Linked DNA regions of Homo sapiens: all the other regions are linked to region 1. The links come from fine-mapping of genetic effects on gene expression. A gene starts in region 1. Each other region holds a variant in brackets. All regions are shown on one strand. Distances are from middle to middle. Region 1 holds the start of DPH1 (diphthamide biosynthesis 1). Region 2 overlaps SMG6 (SMG6 nonsense mediated mRNA decay factor). Region 3 overlaps RTN4RL1 (reticulon 4 receptor like 1).

Evidence for each region. PIP is the estimated chance that this variant, and not a neighbour inherited with it, causes the effect.
Region 2: its variant is the best candidate, but not a certain one, in a credible set for the expression of DPH1 in whole blood (TOPMed, PIP 0.87).
Region 3: its variant is the best candidate, but not a certain one, in a credible set for the expression of DPH1 in Th2 cells (Schmiedel 2018, PIP 0.63).

Annotation. Positions count from the first base shown.
Region 1 is chr17:2,028,080-2,032,397 of GRCh38, forward strand. It overlaps DPH1 (diphthamide biosynthesis 1), which reads left to right and starts at 2,074. Exons shown (of 13, transcript NM_001383.6): 1 at 2,074-2,151. The coding sequence starts at 2,091. RefSeq lists enhancers at 1,822-2,413, 2,414-3,005.
Region 2 is chr17:2,077,451-2,081,768 of GRCh38, forward strand. The region is part of intron 15 of SMG6 (SMG6 nonsense mediated mRNA decay factor); the gene reads right to left. Among named protein-coding and RNA genes, the nearest start is that of SMG6-AS1, 10 kb to the right of the region's middle. The variant C/T (reference allele first, on the strand shown) is at 2,142.
Region 3 is chr17:1,997,187-2,001,186 of GRCh38, forward strand. The region is part of intron 1 of RTN4RL1 (reticulon 4 receptor like 1); the gene reads right to left. Among named protein-coding and RNA genes, the nearest start is that of RTN4RL1-AS1, 19 kb to the right of the region's middle. RefSeq lists an enhancer at 2,799-3,309. The variant TACACACAC/T (reference allele first, on the strand shown) is at 1,956.

The sequences.
Region 1 (4,318 bases):
GTGCTGCCTTGGAGTCCAGCCAGGGAGTGGGGGCGAGTGAAGGCGGGTGTTGTGGTGTACTGTGGGGGTGCACTGTGCCCGCCTTCTTGTCAGGCAGTAATTACTCAGACTGCTGAGTAACTCAGGCAGGGAGACCCCCACAGACAGATGGAGGTGCCCTCAGCCCAAGCTGAATGGCAGCCCCCAATGTCCTGCACCACGGAGTCTTGGGGAAGCATTCTCACATCTGTTCTTCATGTCCAGTTCTCCTAGGCATCATCCGGCTTCCTAATGGGGGCCAGAGCAGCTCATTAGGCACAGCGGGTGCGGGGCAATGTTACTAGAGGGATGGGACTTTTGCCATCAAACAGGCCCCACCTCTGATGAGGGAAAGGTCCCAAGGGATATGGCGCCTGCTAGGGAGAAGCCATTGCTCAGTTGGAGCCAGTCCTTTCCCCTTGAAACTCCATGCTGCAGTCACAGCTAAGGCTGTCCACAGGCTGGGCAGCAGTGTCCTGAGAGAGGAGGGGCTGAGCTCCCAGAATTCAGATCTTGCACCCTGGGGATCCAGAGAAGCTGGGGGGAGATGGGAAGGTCTAGTCCGGACGCTTATCGAGTTGAGGGGAGTGTTCCTGGGACCCACATTGGTCACTTTTCTGTCTAGAGCTACCTGTCCTAAGAGTGCCGGTGGCCTGGGGGGCACAGCACTGACCCTTGGTGATGGTCCCTCAGCTGCTCACTCCCTGCCTGTCCAGCCATTCCTCCTCTCTGGGCAGCCTCCCAGGCAGGGCCTGTCTCTGGCTGCTTGTTTTTACTTCTCCCTGCACCTTAATTAGGGGTTTCCAAGCAGGGAGGGCCTCTGGGGGAGCCCGAGGACACAGAGCTGACTTAAAGGGCCAGCTGTGATCACAGCACCACCGCAGAGAGAGGAGGAGGATGCCAGGGGGCTGGGTAGACCGTCAGACCTGGAAGACCATTGTTCCACGGGACAGACTGCTGAGGGCCAGTCCTGCAGGTACTTTGCTCTTCCACAGGTCAAAGCCGTCTCACTGGCTGTCTTCTCTTTGGGGTCTCTGGGGCTCTGGCCAGTGATCAGGAGAAAGACCAGCCCTGAGGGGCAGGGCAAAGGTTGGCCAGGGTCCAGAAGGGTTAGACATCACAGTCCTCCACTGCCCACCTTCCCAGGAAAGCACCCTCAGGCTGTGGGCCTTCCCCAGAGGGGCAGTTTCTACAGGGTCTACGCAGTGGATTCTAAAGGTGATAAAGGCTGGGTGCAGTGGCTCGCGCCTGTAATCCCAGCACTTTGGGAGGCCAAAGTGGGAGGATTGCTTGAGTCCAGAGGTTCAAGACCAGCCTGAGCAAAATAGTGAAACCTTATCTCTACTAAAAAAAAAAAAAAAAAAAAAAAAAAAAATTAGCTGAACGTACGCCTGTGGTCCCGGGTACTCAGGGGGCTGAGGCAGGAAGATGAATTGAGCCCAGAAGGTTGAGACTGCTGTGAACCATGATCGCACCACTGCACTCCAGCCTGGGCGACAGACCAAGACCCTGTCTCAAAAAAAATAATTTAAAAAGCTGATAAGGGCGATCCACAAACCTGCACCAAGACTCTCAACTTGGAGCTGGGCTGGTGGTCCCTGAGTTCTGTCCTGCCGGACAGTAGAGTCCCCCTAGGTAGGGAACGTGGCCCCACACGGCGGCCGGGTGACCGACCACTGCTTACCAGGAGGGGAGACTGGCAGGGGGGGCTCAAGGAACATCTGGTGGGTGTCCCCTTCACAAGACTCGGCCTGCAGAGTTCGTGCAGGGAGTTCGCACATAGGAGAGCACCGGTCCGGGAGTGCCAGGCTCGTGCCCGGCCGGGGAGAGGAGTGGGAGACTAAGTCGCAGGGCAAGGGCAACTGCATAGTCGGGGACCTCTAGGGAATCCTGAGTCCCGGCATTCTGGGCTGGGGTGGAGCCCACTACAGCCCCGCCCCTATCTCCTCCTTTATGGCCCCGCCCAGCGGGTATCCCCCGCCCCCGCTGGCCGATCGGCGATCGATCGCAATGTCTGCGCTCTCCGCGTTCTTCCAGCGCTGTCTTTTTAGTACCACATGCGCAGGCAGGTGATGGCGGCGCTGGTCGTATCCGGGGCAGCGGAGCAGGGCGGCCGAGACGGCCCTGGCAGAGGTGGGTGCTGGAACGCTGCGCCCTCCAGACCTCGCATCTCGGGGCGGGGCCCCCAAGTTAGGGACAGGACCAACCCCCTTTAACGGCGGCGGCGCCTTTCTCCGCTAGATCCCGCTGTTAGTCGCCTTGGGCCGCTGTCACCAGCTCGGGGTCGCTGTCAGCCGGAGCCCAGGGGTACCAGTCTTTTGCAGCTTTAGGGCACGACCGAGAGCAGCCCTTAATCCTCCAATCGGAAACTACAGCCTTGTCTTGGCGGGTAGACGGATAAAATGGACTCGACGGGGAGGGAAAGGGCCAGGCCAGATGCAGCGGGCATTTTACGAGTGCGCCCTCAGGGAATGCTTTCAGGGAAGAGGCAAAAGGTTTCATTCGCCAGGCATTAACTGAGCGCCCACCGAATGCCAGGCCTGCGCTGGGTGCAGGTACTAGAATCAGAGATCTCAGTCTACTGGGGGAATGTTAATGTAAACATATCATAGCCACGTGATAAAGGAGGAGGTGCCTACTGGTCCCTGGGACACATTGAAGGGCTAATGTTAGCAGTTCCTTACACGCCAGCGACCACTAGGGACCTGTCAGAGGAGGATCTGTAATGGGCCTAGGAAGCCTAGGCTGATTGTCCAAGGCTTTTGAAACAACTGGCCAAAAACCATAGCAGTGGTAACGTTCAAATCTGATCTCAGGGCCCCAGCCTCCGCTGGACCATCCCCACCGCCGCCCACACAGTGGGTGAAGCCTCATGTCTGGGCGGGTCCCTCCTATCATAGTGTGGGGCCCTAGCAGAAGTTGTGGCACATAGCACAGTCTCAATACATATTCGTTGAATAAGTTAATTTCTTGCCTTTTCATATCCTCAGACTCTGTGGCTCCTGAAGAGATAACGGGGTTGAACTAAGCTTAATTGTCGGGGCAGGGCATAGTGGCTTACACCTTTAGTCTGAGCACTTTGGGAGGCTAAGGAGGATTGTGTGAGCCCAGGAATTCCACACCAGTCTGGGAAACATAGGGGGACCCTGTATGCACAAAAAAATAAAAAATAGCCGTGCGTGGCCGGGCACGGTGGCTTACACCTGTAATCCCAGCACTCTGGGAGGCTGAGGCGGGCGGATTACCTGAGGTCAGGAGTTTGAGACCAGCCTGGCCAACATGGTGGAAACCCTGTCTCTACTAAAAATACAAAAATTAGCCGCGTGTGGTAGCACACGCCTGTAATCCCAGCTACTCGGGAGGCTGAGGCAGGAGAATTGCTTGAGTCCGAGAGGCTGAGGTTGCAGTGAGCCGAGATTGCACCACTGCACTCCAGCCTGGCCAACAGACAGAGTGAGACTCTGTCTCAAAAAAAAAAAAAAAAAAAAAAATTAGCCCTGCGTCTTGGCACATGCCTGTGGTCCTAGCTACTGGGGAGGCTGAGGTGGGAGGATTATCGTTTGAGCCCAGGACGTCGAGGCCGCAGTGGACCATGATTGCACCCCTGCACTCCAGCCTGGGTGATGGAGTGAGACCCTGCCTTAAAAAATAATAAGATGAATTGTTTATTCAGCTTATTATTTTTTATCCTACTTAGGAGTAGGATGAGACCAGAGTAAGAGTTGCAGTTTGCTAAGGGCTACGGTTTCCCCTTTACTCCAGGAGTTGTAATTATGTGTATACCTGTCTTTTCCCCCACTAGACTGCTGGTCTCTAAGGGACAAGGTCACTTTTCTGTCCTTACTGGTACGTCCACCACCCTGACTCAAGTGTTCTTTCCATCCTTCCTGGTTTAAGAGTAAGGAGGAGCAATGGGACAGCTAAGTCAGTTAAATGTATGATGTTTATTTCCCTTTTAAATGAGGAGAGGTAAGCGTGAAAGAACGAACAGTGTGGCCACAGTCAGTGGGGTTCTGAGTCAGGAGGGCAGTCTTTTAAGTTAGTATTCATGTTTAACGGTTTGCTTATAGACCTCATATCTAGAAGCTCAAAACTTCAAGGTGTCCTCAGGAGGTGGGAGAGGGGGGACATTCTCCCAGGCTGGCTGGGCTGGCTAGACTGACTCTTAGGTTTTCCGCAGGGCTGTTCTCTATCAGGGAGCAGTATATGGACTCAGACTCATTCTTTGCCCCTTAGCCCCTGGTGTCACCTCTGTTCTCCTGAGGAAGAAGGTGAGCCATATTCTATTCATGGGCTCAAG
Region 2 (4,318 bases), 49 kb after region 1:
TAACAAGACATATGGAGCAGAAAAAGGGCACTCTGCTTTGAGGGACAGCATGAACAAAAACCCGAGTGGAAAAAGGCAGAGCATGCCTAGGGAGTGGAAAGGAAGGTGGGTGTCACTGTCCAGGCAGGAGGGCCTTAGTGTCTGCACAGGCATTTTACGTGCACTGTGGTTCATTCCGAGGCCTCACAGCAGCTCTAATATTGGTGCTTTTACCACTTTCACTAAAAAAGTGTTTAAGAGACGGGGTTTTGCTATGTTGCAGTGGTTATTCACGGGCATGATCACTGCACACCATAGCCTTGTACTCCTGGGCTCAAGCTATCATCCAGCCTCAGCCTCCTGAGTAGTTGGAACCATAGGCACGTGCCCACTGTGTCTGGCATTACTTTCATTATAAAGATGAGGAAACAGGCTCAGAAAAGTTAAATAATCTGCCCAATGTCATATAACTAGTAAGGGTTCATGAGGGATGGGGTAGTGGGAGAAGAGGCTGGAAAAACAGACTGGGAACAGATCAAAAAGCCTTAAATGCCAATAATAGGGAATTAAGACTTTTTTTTACTAGCCAAGCAAAGGCCTGATGATTTCTGAGCAGGGGAGTGGCTCTTTCAGGAAGAGAATGATGGAGGCAGTGCAGTGAATAGGAGCCTGGTGGGCAGGAGCCTGGTATGCTACAAACTCCAGGAGGTGCCACTTACAGAAACAAGGCAAATGGCACCTTCTGGGGCTGTGCAATGCAGGGGCCTTGACTGCTACACTCTAAGCAACTACTTGACCTAGAATAGTAGTAGTGGCAATGGAAACAGAGAGGAGAAGAGGGAATAAATGTGTGAATAAATAGTATTTAATATGAAATTAGATACTAGGGGTTAAAAGCCAGAGTGGAATTTAAGATGATGCTCTAGTTGCTACTATTATTGTCACTGAATACTTTTTTTTTTTTTTTGAGACAGAGTCTCGCCCAGGGCTAAAGTCTAATGGCTCGATCTCGGCTCACTGCAACCTCCACCTTCTGGGTTGAAGTGATTCTCCTGCCTCAGCCTCCTGAGTAGCTGGGATTACAGGCACCCGCCACAACACTCAGCTAGTTTTTGTATTTTTAGTAGAGATGAGGTTTCATCATGTTGGCCAGGCTGGTCTTGAACTCCTGACCTCAAGTGATCTGCCAGCCTCGGCTGCCCAAAGTGCTGGGATTACAGGCATAAGCCACTGCGCCCAGCCACTGAATACATATCTGCTGAGCACTAACTCAGCTTGCTGAGACTAAGGAGTAAAAGGAAGGATGGAGGAGACCAAAAAAAGAATGGTGGTGAGGAAGCCCAGGAGGGTGGTCTGGCGAACAGGGAGAAGACAAGGGGTCATTCATCGATGCTGAAGGGAAGCTGAAGGAAGGTGGCTTTAGGGCCCAAAGACAAAGGGAGGTCAACTATGACACAGACTGAAATTTGATAAAGATAGGTCATTGGTGATTGGTCAACTATGACACAGACTAAGGTTTGATGAAGATAGGTCATCGGTGATTTTTCTTTTTAAGATGGAGTCTTGCTCTGTTGCCCAGGCTGGGGTGCAGTGGCGCAATCTTGGCTCACTGTAACCTCCGCCTCCTGGGTTCAAGAGATTCTCCTGCCTCAGCCTCCCGAGTAGCTGGGACTACAGGCACCCGCCACCACACCCGGCTCACTTTTGTATTTTTAGTAGAGACAGGGTTTCACCATGTTGGCCAGGCTGGTCTCGAACTCCTGATCTCAAATGATCCACCCACCGTGGCCTCCCAAAGTGTTGGCATTATAGGCGTGAGCCACCGTGCCTGGCCATATTGGTGACTTTTGACGCAACAGTTTCCATAACTGCTGGGTTGAGAGTCAAGAAATAACGGTAGAAACAGAATTTCTGGGAAAACAGATGGTAAGGAAGAGCAAGAAAAGAAGCATAAGGGCACTTCGGGAGGCCGTGGCGGGCAGATCACGAAGTCAAGAGATTGAGACCATCCTGGCTAACATGGTGAAACCTGGTCTCTACGAAAAATACAAAAAAAATTAGCTGGGCGTGGTGGTGCATGCCTGTAATCCCAGCTACTTGGGAGGCTGAGGCAGGAGAATCACTTGAACCTGGGAGGTGGAGGTTGCAGTGAGCTGAGATCA[C/T]GACAGCGAGACTCCATCTCAAAAAAAAAAAAGTAAAAGAAGCATGAGGATAAAGCTGTTTTGAGGATCATGCACAAGTTTACATGTAGACCCACAGCAGGGCTGGGGAGGCAGCCACATGACAATGGATGATGCTGGTAGAGGTATTACACACTGATTCCAATGGTAGCAGGGACGTGAATCTGTCTAAAGAATGATGGAGGCTGGGCGCAGTGGCTCACGCCTGTAATCCCAGCACTTTGGGAGGCCAAGGCGGGCAGATCACCTGAGGTCAGGAGTTTGAGACCAGCCTGGCCAACATGGTGAAACCCCATTTCTACTAAAAATACAGAAATTAGCTGGGTATGGTGGCAGGCGCCTGTAATCCCAGCTACTTGGGAGGCTGAGACAGGAGAATCGTTTCAACCCGGGAGGCAGAGGTTGCAGTGAGCTGAGATTGCGCCACTACACTCCAGCCTGGGCAACAGGGCAAGACTCCATCTCAAAACAAAACAAAACAAAACAAAACAAAACAAAACAAAACAAAACAAAAGAATGATGGATCTTGGCCAGTGTGACGGCTCATGCCTGTAATCCCAGCACTTTGGAAGGCAGAGGCGGGCAGATCACCTGAGGTCAGGAGTTCAAGACTGGCCTGGCACACACAGCAAAACCCTGTCTTTACTAAAAATACAAAATTAGCTGGGCATGGTGGCAGGCATCTGTAATTCCAGCTACTCTGGAGGCTGAGGCAAGAGAATCGCTGGAACCCGGGAGGTGGAGGTTGGAGTGAGCTGAGATCATGCCACTGGACTCCAGCCTGGGCAACACAGCGAGACTCTGTCTCAAAACAAAAACAAAAACAAACAAACAAAAAAAAGATGGCTCTCGATTGGTATTTATTCCTCTTCCCTGGCCAGGGTGATTAGACAAATATCAGACAAAGGTGGCCGTTCATGGAGCACATACTAAGTGCCATGCACTATGCTAAGTGCTTTACATACACTGTCTCGTGTAGGCCTCACAGTGACTCTGAGAGATAGGTGCTATTAGCACTTTTTTCTTTTTTCTTTTTTTTTTTTTGAGATGGAGTCTCACCCTGTAGCCCAGGCTGGAGTGCAATGGTGCAAGATTGGCTCACTGCAACCTCCGCCTCCCGGGTTCAAGCGATTCTCTTGCCTCAGCCTCCTGAGTAGCTGGGATTACAGGTGTGCACCACCATGCCCAGCTAATTTTTTGTATTTTTAGTAGAGACAGGGTTTCACCATGTTAGCCAGGATGGTCTCAATCTCCTGACCTCATGATCCGCCCGCCTCAGCCTCCCAAAGTGCTGGGATGACAGGCGTGAGCCACCGCGCCCGGCCAGCACTTTCATTTAACAGATGAGGAAACAGGCTCTGAGAAGCTGAATGATTTGCCCCATGTTACAAAGCTATTTAGGTGGCAGGGCCTAGACTGTCACTGGGTCTGCCTGATCACATGCATCAAACCCTATGCCAAAGGACAGGGTTGGAAATGGGCATCCTTAAAGAAGCGGAGTGGGTGGCTTGATGCTTCCCTATGCACACGGTTCACCTTTAAACGGGGAGCAGGACTGCCTCTTCCCTGTCTGCCCCGAGCCCTAGAGGACAGCAAACGGCCTCACAGCACAAGGGAACAGACCTAGAAGGCCAGGAAGAAACACTTGCTGGGGGTGAAGGCACAGGCCCGTGAGAGGGCTGATGGGGGTCAAAGTCCCTGTGTGGAGATTAAGTAGTTTGTCTCTGCAAGGGTGTAGGGAGTATCTTGTCCAGAGGAGTCTTCCATTTCATTGGGAATCCAGGCAAGCAGACTGTGGCCATGCCATCCTCTCCCTGGGAACAGGCGTTCTGAAGTAAGAATCCACAGCCTCTCCAGGGATATCTGGATAAGGCTCAGGGAAACTCTGAAACCCCTCACATTGTGTGAAAGATCATGTATGTGTGGTGTGCATTTGGAGATTCTCACTGGGGAAGCAGCTTTTCTCAGAGTCTCTGAGAAGACCGTACCCCTGCCTTGGAGCCCAGGATGAGGGAGACTCTAGGCACCAAACCTGCTACCAGAATTTAGTGGTAGAGTGAAAAACGGGTAGAGCTAGAGAGAACACTGCAGGACTGACTCACTCTTAGTGTCCTGCTCAGCTCTGCTCTCTGCCCACATCCTCTCATGCCCTAGACAGC
Region 3 (4,000 bases), 31 kb before region 1:
GAGACCTTCAGGGATCTGCCGCTCACTACCTGCTTCTTCACTCACGACAATCAACCTCACTGGCCTTCCTCGCAAATTATTTCCTGCCTCTGGGCCTTTGCACTTCCTACAGACTTTGTCTGGGATGCTTTTTCCCCAACCCATCGTCCTCAGCCAGCTCCAGGACCAGCCCAGCTGATGTGGCTCCTCTCCCGGCCAAGTACAATATCACATTAACAGTTTTATTCTCTACACTGAGTCCAACCACGATCTGAAATCATCGCATGTGTTTACTTATTAACTGTCGCTCTCTGGAATGCGATCCCTCTGCAGGTCTGAACTTGTCTGTCTGGTAGTCGACAAGTATGACTGGCCCATAGTAGGTGCTCAATCATAAACCACTGCATGAATGAGCAGTGAGGATGTCACCGTCCCCTCTAGGTATTCCCCAGGCAATGCCCAGGAAATCGGGAGCACCACCAGCACACTAAGGTATCCTACTCCAAGGTACAGGAACACCTCGCCAGCCTCCCTCTAGGGCACCCCTAGCTGCCCCTGCCCCACCCAGGCCTCATCCAAGCCCCTGCTGGCTTTAAACCACTAGGACTCGGAGGTCAGGCCTGAGCCGGGGCTGGGAGGTCCCCGCCCCCTTCACAGCCCTCCTACTCGGGCCTGCATCCCCGCAGACCCCCGACCCCAGCTGACGCCCTCTGAGAAGGGAGGTGACAAGGGCAGGCCGGCAGGGGCCGGCGCGCTCCTCGCAGGCCTTCTGGGGAAAGCGTGGGCGCAGGTGCCTTCGGTTGGGCTCCTGGGTCTGGGGCCTGGGGGCGGGCAGCGATGTCCCCCTCAGGGTGCCGGGCGCCCCACCCCCACCCCCGCCTCCGCCCCAGGCCGCGATCGATCCCGGCCTCTCCCGGCCTCATTACCGAGGGAGAGCTGCCGGGGCTGGCAGGGGAGCCAGACGGCGGCGGAGGGGGCGGGGAGGCCTCCTTGGCTCCCTGGCCCGGATTAAATATTTACTATGTTTTGTTTGGCCTTTGGGGGAGGGGCGGGGAGGGCTGTCGCATTGATCCGGAGCTGCAGGGCGAGGGCGGTGCCCAGACCCGGCGCCCCAAGGCCTCCCGCAGGCCGACCCGAGCCGAGCGCGCCCTTTGGGCACCGGCCCCGCCCGGGAGGGTCTTCTCGCTCTAGAGCCGGGGGCCCGCGCTGAGAGATCGGGGTTACCGCGCGGGGAGCCGCGGCCGCGCTGGGATCCGTTCCCTCTCGCGGGAGCCGCCGGCCGGGGATCTGCGCACCCCACGCGCCCCGCTCGGGTCGGGCCTCCCCTCCCCGCGGCTGCCCCCGGGCCGGCCACCGCTGCCCAGCGCGCAGGTCCCTGCCGGATCCCCGGCGGCTTTCCTGCCCCCACTTTACAGACGTGAACGCTGAGGCGGAGGGTGGGGGACGTGGGGCCGGCTCGCCTCCTCCTGGGCTCGCCGGGATGTGGCCTCCGAGGTCGCCGCGGCGCTTTCCTGCCCAAGCTGGCGCTGCCGGAGCGCCCGGGCCCCGCTCCCCTCACGGGCCTCGCAGCACAGACGGGGACAGGGGCGGCCTCGCGCGCACGGGGACCCCGGGGTGGGGGTGGGGGTGGGGCTCTGCGAGGGCCCTAAAAACGCTGGGGACGCGGGTTTGACGCACTTTCCCGGCAGCCGAAGACGACCCCGGAGCCCCTTTATTCTCTACGCGCTCATCCCACGCGCAGAACAGACACAGGCCCTGCCCTCACCGAGGGTTCCAGTCGGCTGTGCACAACTGAAGAGCTGCTCCCCCTTCCCTGCACGATGCCATCCTCTCACACACAGGGCGGGGACCACTCCACAGCCCCTTACAGCGATGTTCACTCGCCCCAGAGAGCTGCTCACGCCAGTCTACACCAGACACATGCGCGATCACACACACACACACACACACACGCTGCACTGAATGTGTGCTCATCA[TACACACAC/T]ACACACACACACACCGGCCGGGCGCGGTGGCTCACGGCTGTAATCTCAGCACTTTGGGAGGCGGAGGCGGGCGGATCACGAGATCAAGAGTTGGAGACCATCCTGGCCAACATGGTGAAACCCCGTCTCTACCAAGAATACAAAAATTAGCCGGGCGTGGTGGCGCGCGCCTGTGATCCCAGCTACTCGGGAGGCTGAGGCAGGAGAATCACTTGAACCCGGGAGGAGGAGATTGCAGTGAACCGAGATCGCGCCACTGCACTCCAGCCTGAGCAACAGAGCAAGACTCCGTCTCGAAAAAAATAAAACACACACACACACACACACATGAACTGCCCCATCCCTATCCACGTATGTGCACATGCAGCTCCCAACACCCATACACAAAGAGCTGTTCACCCACTGCCACCCTGTACATGTCGGTGTACACACAAGCACACACGTACACAGAACATCCAGCCTCTTCTTCCTGTCCCTGCACACATGCACAAATACACACTGCAGTGCCCACTCCCTATACATGCCCCCCCCACACACACACGCACAGGCACACACACTCTTGCGTGCTGACTGCAGGCGGCTGGGGAAGAGCTGCAGCCTCCAGCCCTGCTCCTATTTAAAGAGAGGCATTGCTGGAAAAGGAACAAAAGCAAAGCTGGCTATAAATAGCCACCTCCCTCCCGGCTTTTCCTGCCCTCCGGCCTCACGGCCTTGCCTCTTCTCGCCTCTCCTCTCCTGTCTAGGGCCCAGAGCAGCTGGGGCAGGCCTGTCCCCAGGGGGGCAGGCAGTGGGGCCCTGGAGGCCAGGTGGCCAAGTGCTGACCACTGGGCAGGCCAGGGTCCCTGGGCCTGGATGGGTGCAGGGGCACAGGCCGGCCATCTGCAGCCAGCCCTGTGTGCATGTACCCAGCACAGAGGGAGGGAAGCCTGCCTGGGCCAGGGCTGCTGCCTCAGCAGAACTGCAAAGGCTGACAGCTGTGTCAGGGAGAAGGCGTGTCTGCCAAGTAGCAGCCACCGCTGCCCCAGGTGTCCCTACCCAGCCCGGCCAGGCCTTTCCTAGTTTGCTTCCTGGGTTGGCTCCTGGAGCCCAGAGCCAAGGATATTGGGTGCCTTGTTAGGAAGCAGGATGGGGCAGAGGAAGGAATGTCAGGACGGGAGGCAGGGAAGGGACACAAAGTCCTACTTTGGGTTCCAGTTTTTGTTTGTTTGTTTGTTTAAGATGGAGTCTCTCTCTGCCGCCCAGGCTGGAGTGCAGCGGCATGGTCTCGGTGCTACCTCCACCTCCTGGGTTCTAGCGATTCTCAAGTCTCAGCCTCCCGAGTAACTGGGATTACAAGCACATGCCACCATGTCCAGCTAATTTTAGTATTTTATTTATTTATTTATTTATTTTGAGACTGATTTTCGCTTTTCTTGCCCAGGCTGGTGTGCAATGGTGCGATCTCGGCTCACCTCCGTCTCCCAGGTTCAAGTCATTCTCCTGCCTCAGCCTCCTGAGTAGCTGGGATTACAGGGGCGTGCCACCACGTCTGGCTAATTTTTGTATTTTTAGTAGAGATGGGGTTTCGCCATGTTGGCCAGGCTGGTCTTGAACTCCTGACCTCAGGTGATCCGCCCAGCTCAGCCTCCCGAAGTACGGGGATTACAGGGGTGCGCCACTGCAGCTGGCAGGGTTCTGGTTCTATTACCTACGGGTCCAGCAGCCTTGGGCAAGGCTCCAAATCATGCCACCCAGCCTCACCTTCAGCCCCTCTTGGAGGGATGGTGGGAATACTGCATGGAAACAGCTGTGGCTCGCAGGCCTTTGTGAGCTGTGGAGGGTCATGGAATAGGAGACGTGACAGGCTGCCCTCTGTGTCTGAGAATCACTTGATAAAGATAACAATAATAATGTTTTTCATTTACTTTTTTTTTTTTTGTAGTGATGGGGTCTCACTATGTTGCCCAGGCTGGCATTGAACTCCTGGGTTCAAGTCATCCTCCCCTCTCAGCCTCCCAAAGTGCTGGGATTACAGGTGTGAGCCACCACGCCTGGCC